Linked DNA regions of Homo sapiens: regions 1 and 2 are each linked to region 3. Evidence: fine-mapped expression QTL. A gene starts in region 3. Each other region holds a variant in brackets. All regions are shown on one strand. Distances are between the middles of the regions.

Region 1 (6,537 bases), 34 kb before region 3:
ACAACTGCTTTCTGTCTTTGCCAGACACACACTAGGGCCTTGTGGCAGACCTGTGGACAACTGGCTGGACCAGCATGCTGGCCTTCCCACAGCCAGGCCTGCACCTCAGGCTGTGGCTCCCAGGAGACAGCAGGACAGAAGCGGTGGTGGCCCAAGCGTGTGCAGCCCCAGCACAGGGCAGGCTCGTGCTCTGCTCTCTCCACACAACGATCCTCACAACCATCCCACTAAACACGATTCTCACAGCCCCATGTACAGATGGGGAAACCGAGGCCCAGGAGGGAGGAAGGTGGTGGTGATCATCCCGGGACAGGTCAGTTCTCTGGGGCAGAGAGGTGTCGGGACTGGGGTAAGATCACCTGGCAGAGTTGAGACTGGAACTGAGGGCCCTGCCCTGCCCTAAGCTTGCTCCTGTGGCTCCCAAGTGACAAGTCCTGCCCCCCTGTGCTAGTCTGAGGTCTGGAGCTCTCAAGGCAGCTCTTAGAGCCTAGCCCAGATAAGGGCCTATGGCCTGGACCAGGCCTAGAGGCTATGCCTGTGTCACTGTGAGCCGAGACAGCAGGATCCACAGTGCCCAGAAGTGAAAGCGTGGCTGACAGTGCTACCCTGGTGTCCTGCTGTCCCGTCATGGGTGCTGCGGGCAGTCAGGGGAGGCCTCTGGGCAGGTGACGTTTGGGCTCACCTGGAATGAGAGTCACGGAGGTGTATGGAGTTGACTGGGGATAGGGCTGAGTCAAAGGAGGGTCTTCAGGCTGAAAGGGGAACAGAGGGCATCTGGGGTGGCCACGGTGGTGGTGGGGCTGTATGTGAGGAAAAGACCGAGTTTAAATGGACACCCTACATGGGCCAGACCACATGGCACTGGGCCAGCGAGGAGCCAGGCTCCTGGGCAGCAACCTCGGAGCATCTGGCCAGGACCTGAACCCCACCTTGGAGGGCCTTCAAAGGCCACCCAGTCACAAGTGTTACACCCATGACACAGGCCACAAATGCAATACCGGTCCTCACGCTCAACTCCTTGTCCTGCCCCAAACCTGCCTGGACATCCCAGGAAAATGCCCAAGTCCCCAAAGCTTGACCAAGGTCCTTGGCTCCTCCTCACCTTTTCTCATCTGACCTGACCCTCGGCAGGACCGTGGACATGGCTTTCTAAACATGCCTGGGGTCCAGCTGCCTCTCTGGCCTCCCTGCCTTGGTGGCTGCTCCCCTGCCTGTCACCTTTCTGCCCAGGGCCTCCGGGGACCCTTCCTTCTCATTTCAGGTGAGCCCAAAGGTCACGTGCCCAGAAGCCTCCCCTGACCACCCGCAGCCCCCATGATGGGACAGCAGGACACCAGGGTAGCACTGTCAGCCACGCTTTCACTTCTGGGCACTGTGGATCCTGCTGTCTCGGCTCACAGTGACATAGGCATAGCCTCTGGGCCTGGCCCAGGCCCTTATCTGGGCAGCTCTAAGAGCTGCCTTGAGAACTCCAGACCTCAGACTAGCACAGGGGGGCAAGACTTGTCACTTGGGAGCCACAGGAGCAAGCCTAGGGCAGGGCAGGGCCCTCAGTTCCAGTCTCAACTCTGCCAGGTGATCTTATGCCAGTCCTGACACCCCTCTGCCCCAGAGACCTCACCTGTCCCTGGATGATCACTACCACCCTCCTCCCTCCTGGGCCTGAGAACCCCACCAGCATCACGTGACTGGTTTGGGAAAAGTTAAAGCTACACTGCTCGTGGGGGACCCGTCCCTGGGTCTCTGCACCCCCATGCTCTCTCTGCCCCTCCTGAACCTCGGGACCAAAGGGGGCCAGGAAATTGTCAGGGGAGGCGATCACAGAGAAAGACCAAAGCTTGCAGACAGGGGACAGGGGCAGGACCTCTGGGAGATGTGGAGTCTGCAGAAGACATTGACCTCTGCTTTCTCCACTCGGCCCACACTGACCCCGCAAGGAGAGCTGGCAGATCAAAACGCGAATATACAGATGAGGAGACTGAGGTAGACGGAGGCAGAGCCCAGGCGCCAGAGCTGTGGCACGGGACAAGGACAAGCAGACACCCTGGCCGGCTTTTCTGGCACCTCTGTAAGTAGAGCCTGGATCAGGGAGGTGCCACATGTTGGTGGTTCATTGGTAGATTAGGCAGAGGGAGCTGTGAGCCTGGAGAAGCTCAACCATACGTCCCTCCCCTCCCCAGAGGACCCTGGTCCAGCCCAGCCCAACACAGCCAGCGGCCTCATATTGGGGCTGTGATCTGAGCACCTCCCAAAGCCTGGGGCTGTGATCTTAGCTCCACTGCATCCAGGGGTGCTGAGGGAGGCCAGGGGCAGCAGCTGACTCTCTGGGGCCTCAGTCTTCCTGGCTGCAAAATGGGGGTTAGGGAGGACGCAGAAAGTTCCAGGGTTCTGCACCCCTCAAGTGTTCCTTTCCTTGCAGCAAGTGGGACACTCAGCCCTGCCTGTGAGGGAAAGGGAAGGCTAAGGAAGGGGCTGCCCAGGAGGTGGGGGTCTCTTCCAGCTGCCTCCAACCTTCAGAAACCGTCCTCAGATGGAGGCCGGGGGCTTGATTCTGGCTTAGCTGCCTACAGGCTGTGCGCCTTGGTTTCCCCATCTATAAAGTAATGACAAGCTTGCATTTCAGAACCAGGATATGGCATCAGACAAGCCTGAGCTCAAGCCTTCCCTCATCACCCACAAGCAAGTCACAGCCATGCTTCCTTCCACATCTGTCCAGGATCTAGACGTTTCTCCCACGCCTGTTTGCAGTGCCTGGACTAGTAAAGTAACCACCTCCCTGCTCTGTCCTGGTCCCCACAGTTTGCTCCCCTTAGAGCAGCAGCTAGAGGGAGCTGGGGCATCCCATCTGTCTTCTGCTCAGGACCCTCCTGGGAGCCTCAGAGTCAAAGCCGAGCCCATAGGACAACGGCTTCCAGGCCCTGCACCACCTGCTCCCCATGACCTCTTGACCCATCCTGCACACACAAGGCATCGCAGGCACTGCAGAGCCTTTGCTCTTGCTATTCCCTCCACTTGGAACACTCTTCCCTGTTGCAGCTCTGTTTCTTGCCTCCTTCAGGTCTTCACTTAAATGCCACCCTCCAGGGAGGGGCCTTCCTAGACACATGATTGTAAATAGCAGCCCTGCCCAACACAGCCTCCCCTCTGCCCCCTGCACCTCTCATGAAAGCCCTTGTTTTCCAGGATACTTTAAAACTGACTCTATTTCTTGTCCATTTCCCTCTCTAAACTGTCAGCCCCAGGAGACCCCGACACCTAAAAGAGTGCTTGGTACATGGTAGGTGCTCAACAAATACTTGCGGGGTGAATCACAGCTCTTCCACCTCTGTGGTGCAAGACTTTGGGCAAGTCATTTCACTTCCCCATGCCTCAGTCTCCCCATCTGTATATGGGAAATGCAGTTTCCCCTCTCCCTGTGGTGTGTGGCTATGAAATAAAGTGACTCCAGGTGCCCAGGGCCTCCTAGAACACTGTAAATGCTTAATAAACAAAGGTGCTCAAACGTTTTCCCTCACTCAGAACCAGAGCTCGCAGGAAGAGAATCAGCCTAGCTGTGCTATGTGGACAGCCTAGGAACACTTCTGCACCAGGAGCCTGGGGCTACCTGACCCCTCAGCCTCAGTGTTTATATCTCTCAGTGGGCACAACAGCACCAGCCTCCAGGCTTGCCTTACAGGTCGGGAATGACACCACAGCCTGTTGTCCTCCTCAGCTCAGGGAGGCCTGGGCTCAGACTCAGACGACCCCTCTCTGGTCCCAAGACACACACCCAAACCCAGTGGGGCCTGGAAGCCCAGAAGAGCCCCACCCTGTGCTGCACAGCCACTCCCTTGGGGGCCTCTGGCCTCTCTCTTCTTTCTCCCCTGGGCTTGGCTGGGGAGATGCCCAGCCACATCTGTGGTCAGCTATCTGGGCAGTGAATTCCAGAAGGGGGTAAGTTTAGAAATACGGCTGGGCATGTCCAGCCCTGACCACGGCCAGCTCTGGAGGGCTGTCCTTTGGCTGTACCCACTTGGAAGAGAAAGAAAAAGAAAAAAAAAAAAAAAAAACAAACGTATCCCCTCTTCTTTCTGTCTCTGAGTATAATGGCCCTCCCGAGCCCACAAGGGAACCAGAGGCCGCTCTGGAACCTCAGAAGAGAGGATTTGAAAGCCATGAGGCCTCTCTCCCAGAGTCGCCAGGGCCCCGAGTGTCCTGGCCAGCTGAGCCCTGCCAGCACCACAGCAGTAGCAGGACTTGCCTCTGCCTGGTGGTGTAGGGTTGGTTGGGCCAATGGTGAAGTTCTGGGTGATGCTGGGCAATCACTTCCTAAGGTCCCTAGCCTCAGTTTCCTCATCTGTAACAC[G/A]GGGTGGTATGTCACAACATTGTCAGGGTATTGTGACAGTCCCATCCACGAAGCTGTAGTGGGGCCTGGCTCGACACTCGGCACATTCCAAATGGCATCGGAGATCTGGCAGAGGCCCCTCCTGGCTGAAGCCAAATGTGGGTCGCAGGAGCCCCACCGTTCAGGGAGTCAGACCAGTCAGGACGCCATCCCAGCTCTGCCCAACTCTCAGCCTGACCTCTCGCAAGCCTTTCCCTTTCCTGGCCCTCCACCTTCCCTTCTTGAAAATGGGCACAGTGGCCCCTAAGGACCGGTCCAGCTTGGACATTCCCACTGGGGCGAGGTGGGCCACAGGGAGTTCATAGCCCTTGTTTTTGTAGTTCTATTTCCTACCTGTGGGACCTCCTGAGGGGGGATGGGCTAATCAAAACTTCTCTACACTGGCAGGGCGTGGTGGCTCACTCCTGTAATCCCAGCACTTTGGGAGGCCATGGCAGGTGGATCACCTGAGGTCAGGAGTTCAAGACCAGCCTGGCCAACATGGTGAAAGCCTGTCTCTAATACAAAAATTAGCTGGGCATGGTGGTGGGTGCCTGTAATCCCACCTACTCCTGAGGCTGAGGCAGGAGAATCACTTGAACCCAGGAGGCAGAGGTTGCAGTGAGCCGAGATTGTGTCACAGGAACATTGTGTCGCCTGGGCGACAGAGTGAGACTCCATCTCAAAAAACAAAAACTTCTCTACACTAAGGGAGAACTTGCCCTTGCTTTCTGGCTTCACGAATCACGATCGGGCCACGTTTACCAGCACTTACTAATCCCCCATGAGCTGGTCTGATCCTTTACATTTGTTACAGTCTTTCATCCTTACAACTAGCCAATGGGGTGTGCACTGGTATTATTCCCATTGCAGAGAGGGAGAAACTAAGGCACACAGAAGTGAGGCAAATGGCCAGTCCCAGAGCCACTGAAGTCTTGATAGTGATAGCCATCCCCCCGCCCCTCACTCCCCCCAGGGGACCACAAGCCCCTTTCGCGGTCAGCCCCAGGTCCGCAGGCCTCCCCCGTGTAGAAAGACTAAGATTCCCAGGGGCAGCAGGAAGCCATATACCACCCGCAGAAGGGGACAGGTCACGGCTGACCAACTTTCCAGGATCTCAAACAGGAGCCTTCAGTGGGTGCCCAACAGTCGTGAACAAGTGGGCCTGAGCAGGTGCGGGTCCCCTGCGGCTGAGACAGGGGACCCGCGCTGCCCCAGCTCCTGCCTCTGCCTTTCCAGGGGCCCCTGTCCGCCCTGGCCCCTGCTCTCCCGGGAAGTCTGCCCCCGCCCAGCCCGTTCCACTTCCCGGAGCGCCGGCCGCGCCCCCACCTGGCCCCGAGCACAACCCGGCCCGCGCCCGGAGCTCCGGCCGCCCGGGACCACCCCGCGGCGCGCGCTTGCAACAGCCTTCCCGGGCGGCGGGCCGGAGCCGGGCCGCGGGCGCGCGGGGGACAGGCACCCAGCAAGGGGGCGGCCCCGGCGGGCCCCGCTCGCTCGCAGACAAAAGGTCGGGGCGGGCCGGGGCCGCCTTACCGTTGAGCCGGACAGTGAACTGGCGGCGCCGGCGGTCGTGCTCCACGCGGATGGGGCAGCCCTGCTCCAGCGCGCCCAGCGGCACGGCGGCAGCCGAGTGCGCCATCTGCGCGCGGGGCTGCGGCGCGGCGCCGGCGGGGGCCGGGGCGCGCGGGGAAAGGTCAGGCGCGCGGCGGGGCTGGAGCGCGGGCGCAGGCGGCAGGCGGTGGGGTAGTTACGGCCTGGGAGACCGCAGGCGGCGGCGCTGAAAGTGACACTCGGCGGCGGCGGCAGCAACAAAAAGGGTGGGGGGGGGGCCAGGAAATCAGCTGTGAGGTCACGTGCGGCGCGCAGCCAGTGGACGCGCGGCCTTTTTGTTTTGATACATTCCAGTCACCTCTTAAAGGGGCCGCGCCGGCCGCGTTCCTCTCGCAGCCCCAAACAAAACAACACGGGCCGCCGCCGCGCCGCGCCGGCTACTTTTCCGTCTTGCGTTTGTCCCACGTGCAACTTTGGGACCCCCGCAAGGAGCCTTCTAAAAAAGACGTAACAATCTTTTGTATGGACATTCTAATCGTCCCCAAGGCAGCCACCATTTATTAAGCACTTGCTGTGTGCACGGCCTGTGTATAGCAAAGCCCTGGCGCACAGGGCGCTCAGTA
Region 2 (8,424 bases), 29 kb after region 3:
TGGGCTGGTCTGGAAGGCCCAAGACGGCCTCACAAACATGGGCCTCCTCTGCCTGGCCTCTCCATGCAACTTACTCACATTGGCCTGCTCCCTGGGCTTCAGAGCATGGCAGTGTCAGCAGAGTTGGAGTTCTTTCATGATGGCTGGCATCTAAAAGGAAGTTCTCTGAAGTGCTAGGCCTGGAACTGGCACAGCATCACTTCTGCCTCATTGTGTTGGTCAGCGAGTCACAGGCCAGCCCAGGTTCAAGGGCAGGGAATGCTCCCGGCTTAATGGAGGATCAGCAGGTGCACACAGCGGGAGGCGGAGGTGGTCACTTTAGGCACAGGTTAGGTTTTTCTTTCACAAGTTACAAACGTAGTGGAAACCTAACATAAAAATAGAGGCACAGTAAGGGGAAAATGACTGTAGTTATTCTACCTAGAGACACCTCTTACCCCGTTTCAGTGCCAACATTGTGCATTATATTATATATATAATATTTTTATTACATATAATAAAATACGTTTTATTAAAATTTAGAGAAATACAAACAATATGTAATGCTTCTCTTTTTTTGTTGTTGAAACAGAGCCTCGCTCTGTCACCCATGCTGGAGCGCGGTGGTGCGATCTCGGCTTACTGCAACCTCCGCCTCCCAGGTTCAAGTGATTCTCCTGCCTCAGGCTCCCGAGTAGCTGGGACTACAGGCGTGCGCCACCATGCCTGGCTAATTTTTGTATTTTTAGTAGAGATGGGGTTTCACCATATTGGCTAGGCAGGTCTCAAACTCGTGATCCACCCACCTTGGCCTTCCAAAGTGCTGGGATTACAGGTGTGAGCCACTGCGCCTGGCCTCGTAATGCTTCTTTTTAAAAAACTTTTTAAAAAAAATTTTGTAGCATTACATGTTGTTCATATTTGTCTCTCTCTCTCTGTTTTTTTTGTTTTTTGTTTTTTTTGTTGTTTTTTTTTTTAGATGTAGTTTTGCTCTTGGTGCCCAGGCTGCAGTGCAGTGGTGCAATCTCGGCTCACCACAACCTCTGCCTCCTAGGTTCAAGTGATTCTCCTGCCTCACTCAATCTCCCAAGTAGCTGGGATTACAGGTGTGCACCACCACATCCAGCTAATTTTGTGTTTTTAGTAGAGATGGGGTTTCTCCATGTTGGTCAGACTGGTCTCGAACCCCCGACCTCAAGTGATCTGCCTGCCTCGGCCTCCCAAAGTGCTTGGATTATAGGTGTGAGCCACCGCACCTGGCCAATTTCTCTAAATTATAATAGACTCCTGTATGTATCCCTTCCAAAGACTCCATAACCATCTGCCACCATTCAGTCACCCTGTCTGCTGATGTGGGTTGTTTCCCTTGTTCCTGCTGTTTTCCTTCCATTTCAAATTCTCAGCCATCCTGGGGGAGCGACTGATGAAACAGAGTCGGGAGAGTCCCCCTGGGTGGGGCTCTGGCCTCGGCCTCCCCCCATCCTGCAAGGGCCCCAGAGCTCTCTTGGCGTTGGCTTTTTCCCACTCACTGCACAAGCCTCAGGATGCCAGTGGGAATCACCCAGAACAGACAGGGGTCATGCCGGGGATGGCCCTTGGCCAGGAGCAAGTGCTGACTGGGTGCTGGCCTGTTAGTGTTGTCGCTGGGGAGTCACAGGGGTGCGACTACGGTCCTGGCTGGGTCTCCGCCCCCATGGTGGGGCCGGCCCCTGGCGCTGGACATTCAGGCTGTTTCTTAGTATTTCCTGGCAGAAAACACCATATGGCACATCTTCGTGTCTGGAGGCTATTTTTGTTGTTTTTCATTTTTTGAGCTCTTTAGAAAAAATAAAGGAGTACGAGGTTGAAGGTTTGGACACTTCTGCTTTTCTAATTATAACTCTCATGGCCGCTGGTCCTTCTCCTGTAGCTCGTATGGGGTACTTGCTCTACATATTGCAGTCAGTGAAAATTCTAAGAGAAAAGCCCCCCAAATCGGTACGGTTTTGTCCTGTGAACACGCATGCACACATGCACACACACGCAGTGGGCCCTGCCTGTGTGGGTGTGTTTGTCTGAGCTGGAAAGGGCCTCTAGCCTGATGGGAGGCACAGTCTCAGCACAGTCCTTAGGGTCTTGTCCGGGCTCCAGTTGCCAGTGCCAAGTGTTTGTGCTGAGGTCTCTTCCGTTCATCATGGTGATGACGGCCGGCAGTGAGGGCCCTTGTGCTGGAGCCTCGGAATTCTCTGTTCTTCCAGGCCGGGGCCAGGGCTGACATAACTTGTTTTTTCCATCCAGTCATCATGATTGGAGCCCAGAGTTGGTTGTAAGCTAGCTAGTCCGTCCCTTCCATGATGACTTCCTGCCAACCACAGGGCTGGGAGCTTGGAGCGAGGACAGAGACCCACCGGCCCGATGTCACCCACAGGAAATCTGGATCCAGCAGGGCACATGTGGCCACACAGGCCACTTGTCTAGGAGGGAAACTGCTGGGGCCCTGCAGAAGATGAGGCTGCAGGCTCACGGGTGCAGAGGCGAAGCAGCCTCATGGTCTCACACTCTGTCCGCGGCCTTGGAGACAGCTGTGTGTGTGTGTGTGTGTGTGTGTGTGTGTGTGTGTGTGTGTGTAGCATTTCCCATGTGCCTCCTCTGTGAAAACAGCCCAAATTAATGACAGCAGATGCTGAAGTCTGAGATGGTCAGATGTTAGGAAGGGGATTGGCTGTGACCACCTGGGACCTGCCCACCTGGCTCATGAGGCTACGGCCCAAAGTTGCCAGCTCCTCAGATTTTTCCAGAGCAGCTGGAACCTGCATTGTTTTGTAAAATCTTCAGAATTCAGGTTTTCTGAAAACCCTATGATGGTCCCACCAGTCCCGGTGTGGGCTGAATCTGCTTCCTGAGCTGGGTCCTGCTGGCTGGGTCGGAGGAGCTAAGAGCTGGCATCCCCGGCTTTCTCGCCTTTGTTCTGCTGGGATGTGGTAGGGAGATCAGCTGTGCAGCTTTGACGCCTGGCTCTGGTACCAGGATGGGTGGGAGCCCCCAACCCTCGCTCCTGGGTGCAGAGCGTGGTTGTATCTGGGGCCGGGGCCTCTGACCCCCTGTCCCCGCTGCAGATTGAGATGGCCATCCTGCGGTTCCCTTACGAGTCCTGGGGGACCCCGTTCCAGCAGCTGAAGCAGGTGGTGGAGGAGCCGTCCCCCCAGCTCCCAGCCGACCGTTTCTCCCCCGAGTTTGTGGACTTCACTGCTCAGTGGTGAGTCTTGGGTGCTGCTGAGCGCCTGCCACTGCCCCTCCCTGGCCAGATCCCTGCACCTTCCTGGGCCCTGTTCCTTTATTCCTTTGGCAAATAAACCCCCAGATGACTTGGCATCCAAATATGTAAGGCAGAAACAGCTGGAGCATGAGGAGCATTTGACAAAACGATGGTCTTGGTGGGAGATTTTAATACAGTTCTTCCAGAAGTGGACAAATCAGATAGACTGAAAAAGAGAACAAAGTATATGGAAAATTTGAACACAAAAAACAAGTTTGCTTTTATTGATATCTAGAACTTTGTACCAAATTAAAGAATGCCCCATAGGAGCCTTATAAAAATCATGTTTGAGAGGCTGGGCACGGTGGCTCACGCCTGTAATCCCAGCACTTTGGGAGGCCGAGGCAGGCGGATCCCGAGGTCAGGAGTTTGAGACCAGCCTGACCAACATGGTGAAACCCCGACTCTACTAAAAATAGGAAAATTAGCCGGGCGTGGTGGCGCATGCCTATAATCCCAGCTACTCAGGAGGCTGAAGCAGGAGAGTCGCTTGAACCCGGGAGCC[G/A]GAGGTTGCAGTGAGCCTGAGCCGAGATCATGCCACTGCACTCCAGCATGGGTGACAGAGTGAGACTGTCTCAAAAAAAAAAAAAAATCATGTTTGAGGTTACAGAAGGAATAAGGAAGAGGGCAACTTCTCTGAACTTAATTAAATAGAGCAAGAATTGGGTAAGGAAGAAGCGGCCGGGTGCGGTGGCTCACACCCATGGTCCCCGCACTTTTATTGTTGACCATAATCAGCAACAGAGGAGCCCAGCAGAGTCCCTGGGCAGTCTGACCCCTTTAATTGTGGACTAACTTCTCCCAGAACCCATGATAAGGAGTTTCTCTCCTGATTGAGGATACCAAGTGTGTGACTGTTAGGCAGAGCATTGCAGCCCCATTTTGGTGTTGATATGGAAATTCCTAGGTCACTATGCAGACAAGAAAACCAGGACCCCAGGAGCCAGAGAAACTTGCTGCAAGTCTCTAGTTTGCTCCTATGAATGCCCCTCCACCCTGGAAGAAGCCCTAGACAGTCCTGTCCCTTCTTCCCTGGGTGCACGTGTCCCCTGCTGCTAGGCCTGGGGCAATCCTGGGGTGGTTTGGCTGGCCCTTGGGGGCTGGGCTTCCTCCCTGCCAGCCTGGCCACAGCTGCACTATTCTCTCCTAGCCTGAGGAAGAACCCCGCAGAGCGTATGAGCTACCTGGAGCTGATGGTGAGTATGGGCGGGAGGTGCCTGCCCTGCTCTTCAGGGCTGGCTGGGGCTGGGTGGGGCTCTGGGGAGAGGGCTGCATCCTGCACACAGATGGGTAGCTCCTCTGGCTGGCCCTGTGTTCTCTCCTTTAGGTGCTCGGTCATTTGTTTGCTCCTGCATACCTGGCTCCCTCCTCCCTCCTTCCTGCATGCCAGGCCCTGGGAAGGGTACACAGGCAGTGTGTGACAGAATGGGGCAGAGGGGCCAAGGGTGGCATCAGGGAAGGCTTCATGGAGGAGGTACCATTTGAACTGAGCCTGGAAGGATGAATAAGGGTTATCTCCTGATGGAGAGGCTGTCCCAAGCAGAAGGTCCAGCATGGGCAGAGGCCTGACGTGTGGGGGGAAAGGGAGGTTAGTGTGGCTGGAGAGTGACCACAAGAGAGCTGAGGAGGAGCCACAGATGCCATCTGTGACAGTCATGGAGGGCCTCCTGGGGGTGGAGGTCCTAGAAGGATGAGTAGGATTTTGCCAGTCAGGAGAACACTTGGGCTGGAGCTGGTTGGGGAAGAGTGGCCACCTCTCCCTCCCGCTACCCCTCCATGGTGACTGTGCCTTCTGTCACCCCCAGGAGCACCCCTTCTTCACCTTGCACAAAACCAAGAAGACGGACATTGCTGCCTTCGTGAAGGAGATCCTGGGAGAAGACTCATAGGGGCTGGGCCTCGGACCCCACTCCGGCCCTCCAGAGCCCCACAGCCCCATCTGCGGGGGCAGTGCTCACCCACACCATAAGCTACTGCCATCCTGGCCCAGGGCATCTGGGAGGAACCGAGGGGGCTGCTCCCACCTGGCTCTGTGGCGAGCCATTTGTCCCAAGTGCCAAAGAAGCAGACCATTGGGGCTCCCAGCCAGGCCCTTGTCGGCCCCACCAGTGCCTCTCCCTGCTGCTCCTAGGACCCGTCTCCAGCTGCTGAGATCCTGGACTGAGGGGGCCTGGATGCCCCCTGTGGATGCTGCTGCCCCTGCACAGCAGGCTGCCAGTGCCTGGGTGGATGGGCCACCGCCTTGCCCAGCCTGGATGCCATCCAAGTTGTATATTTTTTTAATCTCTCGACTGAATGGACTTTGCACACTTTGGCCCAGGGTGGCCACACCTCTATCCCGGCTTTGGTGCGGGGTACACAAGAGGGGATGAGTTGTGTGAATACCCCAAGACTCCCATGAGGGAGATGCCATGAGCCGCCCAAGGCCTTCCCCTGGCACTGGCAAACAGGGCCTCTGCGGAGCACACTGGCTCACCCAGTCCTGCCCGCCACCGTTATCGGTGTCATTCACCTTTCGTGTTTTTTTTAATTTATCCTCTGTTGATTTTTTCTTTTGCTTTATGGGTTTGGCTTGTTTTTCTTGCATGGTTTGGAGCTGATCGCTTCTCCCCCACCCCCTAGGGTACCAGCAGGCAGAGCCTTGCCCTCTGCTCAGGCTGGGGTCCAGTGGGAGGGGCCCAAGATCTCTGCTCAGAGAAGTGCAGGGGGAGCCTTCCAGCTCACTCTCCCTGAGGACTGGCTTGACAGGGGCTATGGGTTTGCTTTGGTGTTGTTTTTAAAAAAAGAAAATATATTTTTTTGAAAAAACGACTGCCCATCCCGGGTCCTTTCCCTGATGGGTTGGGGCAGTTACCTGGTTGCTGTTTTAATTAAAAAAAAAAAAAAAAAAAGGACTAAAGGTTGTGTGAGATTGTGTATGACACCTGTGAGCCCCCCTCTTACTTGGGGAAGGTTGTGGCCCTTCAAGGGACCCTTGTCTCTGGGCCAGGGGCAGGGTGTCGTGCTCAGGGGAGGGAGGACTGCCAACCTACCAGGCCCTTCTACATCTGAGGACACAGAGGCCCCCAGAGGGCTGTGATGAGGTAACATCCTGTGATCATCCAGGCACCAGGCCCTGTACTGACACTGGACAGAGCAGCGAACACACAGGTCCAGTCTGCTGGTGGCGGCCACCCATCCCACTGTCCTGAAGTAGTGATGACAGCCAGGTCACAGAGCAGCGAGCACCCTGCACACTTTGCCTGGGCTGGACACGGTGACCTCATGGAGGTTACCTGACCTCCAGTTTACAGATGGGAACAACAGACCCAGAGAGCTGACATCACTTACCCAAAGCCACACAGCTTATAAGACAGAAAAACAGACTTGGGGACAGGTGGTGGGCTCCGGAGAAGGCTCCGAGGGGAGTAGGGGCAGCCTGATGAAGGCGCCCTGCAGTCTGGCCCTGTGACGCTGGCAGCATGGCTGGGGCAGCAGGGAATTTGCTCACGTAAGCCGGGTGTGCTCAGCTTCAGGTACCGTTAGGTTCGAAGTTCAGCTGATGGCCTGAAGGACTTGCATCCACCTTGGCTGTTCATCCGTCTCAGGTTCACCCCCTCATGGGGACCAGTCAGGACCCAGGGACTCCAAGAGCTCGGCACACCGTGCCCAGGGTACTCCTGAAGTCCCAGGACTGGCTCTTACCAGCTGGGAAGGAGTCGAATTCATCCCCAGGCCAGGAGGGTGGGTGTGACAGCTCAGGTCAGGTCAGGCATGAGGGGACTCCGCCCACTACAGCTCAAGGTCTGAGAGCAGGGTCTCTGTGGTCCTCTGAGGAAGCTTAGGGTGTGTTCCCAGGAGGAGGGTCCCCATGGGGTCTGTCTCTGCACTCCTCCTGTCCTCCAGCCCCAGTCTGGGACAGGTCTCTGCCCACTAACCCTTCCCTGGCACAGGGGCGAACAGTTCCTGGGAGCTGTTGTCTCCCTCTCTCCATCCTTCAATCATGAAGACTTGTTTTCACCCCAGGGCCTTTGCACTGGCTGTCCCCTCTGCGTAGAACACCCCCTCCCCCGTCTTCCTGTGGCTGGCTCCCCCCAACCCCATCCCGGTCTCCCATGTCACCTCCTCAGCGAGGTCTTCCAGGACCACTCTGGCTCAAACAGCCTCCGCCCACTAGGCCCAGCCAATCTAGCTTATTATCCTGGGTTATCCTGGCCGAGACCTGACTTGTCACTGTTGTGTCGTCAGCGCTGAGAATGCTGCCGACACCGAGGGAGCGCTCGGCTTCTGCTGAATGAACACATGAAAGAATGAATGAGGGAGGGAGGGAAGGGGGGAGGGAGGGAATGAATCCCTTGCCGGGGCGCGGCCCCAGGCTCTGTCTCCTGTAGCCGCCAGGGGGCGGTAGAGCTCGGCTTCAACCGCGTGTCCTGGAGCCCCGCCCGGCCCCGAGCGCCCGTCCGCGTCCTCGTGCGTCCTCGGCGCAGCTGGAGGCCGCGGGCTTGCCACGCGTCAGCCCAGTTCTCGGCCTCTGCGGCTGTCCTGCCCGTGTGCACCCCCTGGCCCGGCCCTCGGGGCTTCCGGGGACTCTGCAGCCTGCAGACAGCAGCAGACCCAACGCCTAGAGATTTACCGTGCGCGCCCCTGAAGTTACCCAGCGCCCCGCAGGCCACCGCGCCCCTCGCGGCTCGCAGGCCTGGCTGGACGCCGCAGGCCTGGCTGGATGCCGCAGCCCTTCACAGAGAGCAGGCTCCTCCGCGCACGACTGCAGCCCCAGTCGTTTGCAGTTCCCTTGCCATTTATGGGACCCTTTGGCTTTTACAGAGCGTGTCCAGCCATCAGAGTGCGGAAGCCAGTGCGCAGGTCACTAACATTTACAAAGCACAGGCCCTTGACAGTTTATACTACCCGTGGAGGTCTCAAGCGGCAGGGCCCCTCTCCCCTGTTCCCTGTCCCTGAGGTGGGGGAATGGGGATGGGGAGCGGCCGCCCCCCCCTCCCCCGAGGCCGGACGCCCGCATTTCCTGTCAGGCAGCAGGGTCCGGGCAGGCGCCTCTTCCAGGCCCGGGATTAATGAGTCTCTGGACTGGGAGATGGCAGAGGCATGTAGACTTTGTTCAATTACAGCCGTGAGAGCCTCCTCATCAGGCAGCATTAAAACTGCAGCAGACA
Region 3 (5,000 bases):
CTCAGTTTCCTGCATCCACAGAGAGCAGGTTTGGGACTTTTCTCCTAGGAATCAAGGTAAGAGGCAGCCTCTTGTGACCCATGTCAAACATTTATTCTGCTTTCTGCATGGTCATGGAGTTCCCCAATCTGACTGTGCCACTTACAGACAGAAAGAAATCAAGAGATGTCACTATAGCAAGCCAGCAAGAGACCTTTGTCTCTGATGGTTCTTGATGGTACTTCTTGAGCTCCAGTGGTGCAGCTGTGCATCCCAGTCTGGCCCTCACCTGGTCCTCATGTGTGGCCCTTTTTACATCTCCAACCCATTGCCTCTGCTGTTCCTTTCCAGGGATGCTCTTCTTGCTTCTCTGCCTGGTAAGCTCCTACTGGTCCTTAAAAGTCCAGTCTCAAAATCACCTCCTCTGAGAGGCCTTCCTTGTCCCCACCCAGATGGAGATGGCTGCATCACCCAGGCACCCTCCTGGGACTTTTGCTCATGCATCTATTTATAGCACTCACATGGAGTTTTGTGATTCCTGAGCTGTTTATCGGGCTCCTGACTAATCCCCAAACTCCTTGTATGCGAGGGCCTGTCTGAGTCATCTGGCCGCCAAGGAGGTTGGCACGGGACTGGAGTCGCTTCACCCTGGTCTGTGGATGCTTTCCTCCTTCCTTTTTTCATTCCTCAAATATTTATCAGGCACCTACTATGTGCCTGGTTCTGGGCTATGCATTGGGAACACAGCAGGGAATGAGGCTCGGATGGTCTGGAGGGAGAGCTGTGTTAAAAACTGAGTCAGTAACAAAGACATCAGCAGCATAAGTGTTGTGCCTCAGTCTGGGGACCATGATGAGAAGGCCTCTTAGGGGTGTTCATTTAGGAAGCGGTCTGAGGGATGAGAGGGAACCAGCCCCAGGAGGCTTGAGTGGAAGAATGTTCTGGGCAGGAGCAGCAAGGGTGAAGCTGCTGCGGCAGGACCATCCCTGGCACATTTGAGGGGCAATACTGAGACTCTTGAACATCCCAAGAAGCAGAGTGCACAAGGCGGAGTGTGGCCTTGTGCAGAAGTCAAGGCTGTTGGCCAGTGCCTGAACCCAGAAAACTCGCTGGACTAGCCTTGCAGTTCTGGTAGAAAGGAAGCTGCTCCTGGATGCCCATTTTACAGACGGATAAGCACAGGTCACCAGGGATGATATGGCAAGGATGGAGGCAGCCCACAGTGTTTTCAAACTCACATTTCCTGGGCACCTAGTGAGTGCCAAGCCCTAGGCCAGGTGTTTCCACTCCTGAACTCATGAAACGCTTTCAGAGACCTTATTGTCCCCATGGGATAGGTAAACTGAGGCACAGAGCTGCTCAGTGACTTCTTTAAGGTCATCCAGCTAGTAAGTGGAGGAATTGGTATTGGAACCCATACCTATCTGAGCCCCAGACTCATGATTTTCCATCCCACTGCCTGGGAAGGGTGAACAGGAGACGCAGGAAGAGAATGGTGATGGCTGCAAGGCTTCCCTCTTATCTCCTGTGGCTCCCCACTCTGTGCATGGGGCCCTGCATCACCCCCACTTTACACCTGGGCAAGCAGAGGTCAGGCCCGGCCTCAAGCCTTTCTAGCAGGTGGTGGAATCTGCTTCCCTCACGTGAGGTCCCTGACAGGGTACACATGTCTGCCTGGAGGCCAGGGGCTGACCCCTTGACCTTTGCCTGGTACATTCTGCCTTCACTAGCCCTGGCTTTACATCCAGAGTCATCTGTTCCCAGCGCCAGATTGGTCAGCGGTTCCTGAAATCCCCCGAGGTTCCGTGTGGGAGCAGAGGGAGGACTGGCCCATCCAGCCATTATGCAGATGGGCAGACTGAGATCCTAGGAGGAGAGGAGAGAACGAAGGTCCAGGAGAGAGCCAGGATGGGGCCTCGGGGCTCGCGGGATAAAATGCACCGCATGCCGCCTCACTCCCTCTGAGACACGGTTTCCCCCTGTGTAGAACAGGGGCAGCAGTAACCAGCCACGAAAACTCCTCGTGCTGCCTCGTCACCGGGCATCGCTGAGCTCACCACCGACCCCGCGCCCTGGCCGGGCGCCTGGAGCGCGGGCGCGGGCGACGTTTGCTGGCGCCAGGCCCTCAGTGCGTGTTAGCGAGCAGCGCCGGGAGATAGCTGTCACCGCCGCCCGCTCACAGATGCGTAGACTGAGGCTCAGGTGTCACCACCTGACCAAGGCTAGTTCCGCTACAAAGCTGCCGACTCGGATCCGAACCCGGGTCCAATTTACAGAAAAGGAAACTGAGGCCCAGAGACACTAGGGAGCTTGCTAGGGTGAGGCAGCTGCAGGTTCAGAGAGCCAGGAGGCAGCCCAGCAGCGCACTTTTAACCCCCGCCCACTTCGGCAGGCCCAGCCGTGCCACCTTTAGGGATCTCGGGTTTTTTCCAGACGACGCACCCAGGAGAACGCGCCCGCGCATCGCACCCGCCGGGGCTGCGGGTCTGGGGGTGCCGGGCTGGGCCTGGGCGCCTGCAGGGAGCAGCGGGCTCAGTGGGTCCCGGGAGTGGGTGGGGCTTGCATGTTGACGGGCAGCGCGAGGGGCGCGGCTTTAGTCCAGGGGGCGGAGCCTGACCGGACCTGGGTTTTTCGGGCGGCTGGCGGACTTGACAGAGAGCGGGAGGGGCCCGGATCCTGGGCCTAAGGAGGGTGGGGCGTGTGCTTGACAGGCAGGGACAGGCCGGCGTCTGATAGGCAGAGGACGGGCCTTGGAAACGAAAGGACCAATCGGGCACGCAGGGGCGGGGCCTGAGTCAGCGCAGTTCGGCCGGGGTCTCCCCGGCGCTGCCCAGTCTGTCTCCGGCGCCGCCCGTCGCGGACTCGTCCTTGCTGCAGTCGCCGCCGCAGTCCTCGCCGCAGTCGCCGCCGCCGCCGCCGCCGCCGCCGCTGCTCCTCCGCCTGGCCTGGGCCGTCTGCCCGCAGCCATGAGCGTGCTCGGCCCCGGTGGAGCCCGCAGTCCTCTAGATTAGTCTCCACCGCCGTCCAGGACCCACTTGCAGCATGGAGTCGCCCGCCTCGAGCCAGCCCGCCAGCATGCCCCAGTCCAAAGGTAGGCGCTCCCGGCCGGGACCTCGGCCTGACCCCGCGCCTAATCTGGGGCCGGGCTGCAAACCCCGACCTTTCTTTGGTCCCACCCCATCCTGTTCTCGACCTGGCAGCGGCGTCCGGTCCCGGAACCCCTTCCTGTTCGGGGTCCCGGGACCAGCCCCCGCCTGGGCCCTCACCTGGACCCCCACGTTAGGCCTTGGGACTGCACTCAGGCCCGAGATCACCCAGGCTGGACCCAGACTAGGACTTTGTTCTGCTCACCCCATCCAAGTCAGGAGCCTCATTCTGACCTCATTTGGGCCTTATGGCTGCAGCCTGGACATGAACTCTCCCAGTCTTCTCCCTCAGCGGGACCCAGGTGAGATTCACACTGGCCTTCACCTGGGTCCTTGGGCAGCACCCAGTCCCATTTCTAGCTTCGGGTCCCAGGGCTGTATCCAGGTTGGGATTTAACTTGAGTCTCCATCTGGGCCCCAGAGTGCTCCTGTTGTTGCGGACCTCACTGTACCCCCTATGCGGGTGCTCTGGCTACACCCCAGCTCGGAACTCCCCGTCCTTCTCTCCCCCAGCTCTTCTTATCCTTATAGGCCCTATGTTGCCCCTTCCCTGGCTGGCCTGCACCCTGTCCTGCAGCCCTGGGCTCCCAGGAACCTTCCTTGTCCTCCCACCCCTCCCTAAGGTACAGCCCCCTCTCTACCGGCCTCTCTCTGTCTTGAGTTGCAAGCTTCTCCCTGCACTGGGGGTTCTCACCCCATCTTATTCTTGTCCTGGCTGCCTGGGATCTGGGCCAGCCGCCAGGCCAGGGTGCTGGCTGTGCAAGGGATTTGCTCTTCTCCAAGTAGCTGGCCTTCCTGGAAATTTTTGTGAGGTGGCAGCAGCAGGATTTGTCATGCGGAGGGGGAAGGATGAAACTCGGAGGGCAAAAGGGGAATTTTTTTTTTTTCAGGAAGAGGAAAGGATGTTTTTGGTGCGTCGGAGTTTCAGTAGGCTGGGTTGTGCGAGAGATTTCCAAACCGGACATAGCCGTAATGAATGGGCTGCCTCCTGGCTTTCTGAACCTGCAGCTGCTTCACCCCAGCAAGCTCCCTGGTGTCTCTGGGCCTCAGTTTCCTTTTCTGTAAATTGGAAGTAATCGCACCTGCTTCTGTGGACGTGGGAGTGTGGTGTGGGGTGGTGAATAGTAAAGAGCTCTGAGGCGTTCTCTCAGCGTAGCACCTGGCGCAGAGCCGGTGCTCACCAGGGTACACTGGCTGCACACATCTCGCTATTGTTTCCATTCTTCTTGCTGGAAAGGCCTCCACTGCTGGAAGTGCAGCCTCAGAGTGAGCAGGAGGAAGCACCTAGCAGCGGGCACCTAGTGGGCACTTCATCAGGGGTCAGCCGCTCTTCTGTTCTGGAGGGTGCAGGCCAATGGGAGCCCTATGTGGGCCTGGGGAGGGCATGGGCTCTTCCTGGCCCCTGCTGCTGGCTGCTATGGTGGCTGGAGCCGGGTGGGCTGGATAATTATGCCTTACATAAGTGGGAGGCCGGATCCCTGACCATTGCCCAACCACTGTGAGTAACTCGGGAGGCACTCGACGGGGGAGGTGTCTGGGGAGGGACTTGCACTGCACAGACCTCGTGGAGCTTGGGAACCAGGAAATCAGACACTTCTCCACTCTGGAGAGCTCGGGGAAGGGTAGGAAGCACTGTTTGTTTTGGAGGCTTTTTAGCTCTCCAGGCAGAGAATGCCTCATCAAAATAAAAGTTCCAGTTGCAGAGTTGTGAAAGGAGAGGGGTCATAGATGCAGTGAGAATGCTGTGAGAGGGCCAAAATGAACTTCTAGATGTGGACCCAGGTCCTAGATGAGGTTGAGGGGGCTGGATGGAGGGTCAGGGACCTCCCTCAGGCCCAGGGACTCTGTAGTCTCTTTGGGGTCTGGGGAAGGATG

The links. PIP is the estimated chance that this variant, and not a neighbour inherited with it, causes the effect.
Region 1: its variant is the best candidate, but not a certain one, in a credible set for the expression of MAP2K3 in whole blood (INTERVAL, PIP 0.56).
Region 2: its variant is the best candidate, but not a certain one, in a credible set for the expression of MAP2K3 in whole blood (TOPMed, PIP 0.56).

Annotation. Positions count from the first base shown.
Region 1 is chr17:21,247,263-21,253,799 of GRCh38, forward strand. NATD1 (N-acetyltransferase domain containing 1) reads right to left here and starts at 6,148. Exons shown (of 3, transcript NM_152914.3): 1 at 5,897-6,148. The coding sequence starts at 6,002. RefSeq lists an enhancer at 1,778-2,279 and silencers at 5,770-5,889, 6,040-6,149. The variant G/A (reference allele first, on the strand shown) is at 4,346.
Region 2 is chr17:21,309,068-21,317,491 of GRCh38, forward strand. It overlaps MAP2K3 (mitogen-activated protein kinase kinase 3), which reads left to right. Exons shown (of 12, transcript NM_145109.3): 10 at 3,075-3,214; 11 at 4,425-4,470; 12 at 5,080-6,165. The coding sequence ends at 5,163. Among named protein-coding and RNA genes, the nearest start is that of MAP2K3, 29 kb to the left of the region's middle. RefSeq lists enhancers at 96-595, 2,920-3,537, 7,946-8,424. The variant G/A (reference allele first, on the strand shown) is at 3,780.
Region 3 is chr17:21,281,900-21,286,899 of GRCh38, forward strand. MAP2K3 (mitogen-activated protein kinase kinase 3) reads left to right here and starts at 2,812. Exons shown (of 12, transcript NM_145109.3): 1 at 2,812-3,070. The coding sequence starts at 3,022. RefSeq lists enhancers at 1,884-2,384, 4,461-4,520 and a silencer at 2,271-2,800.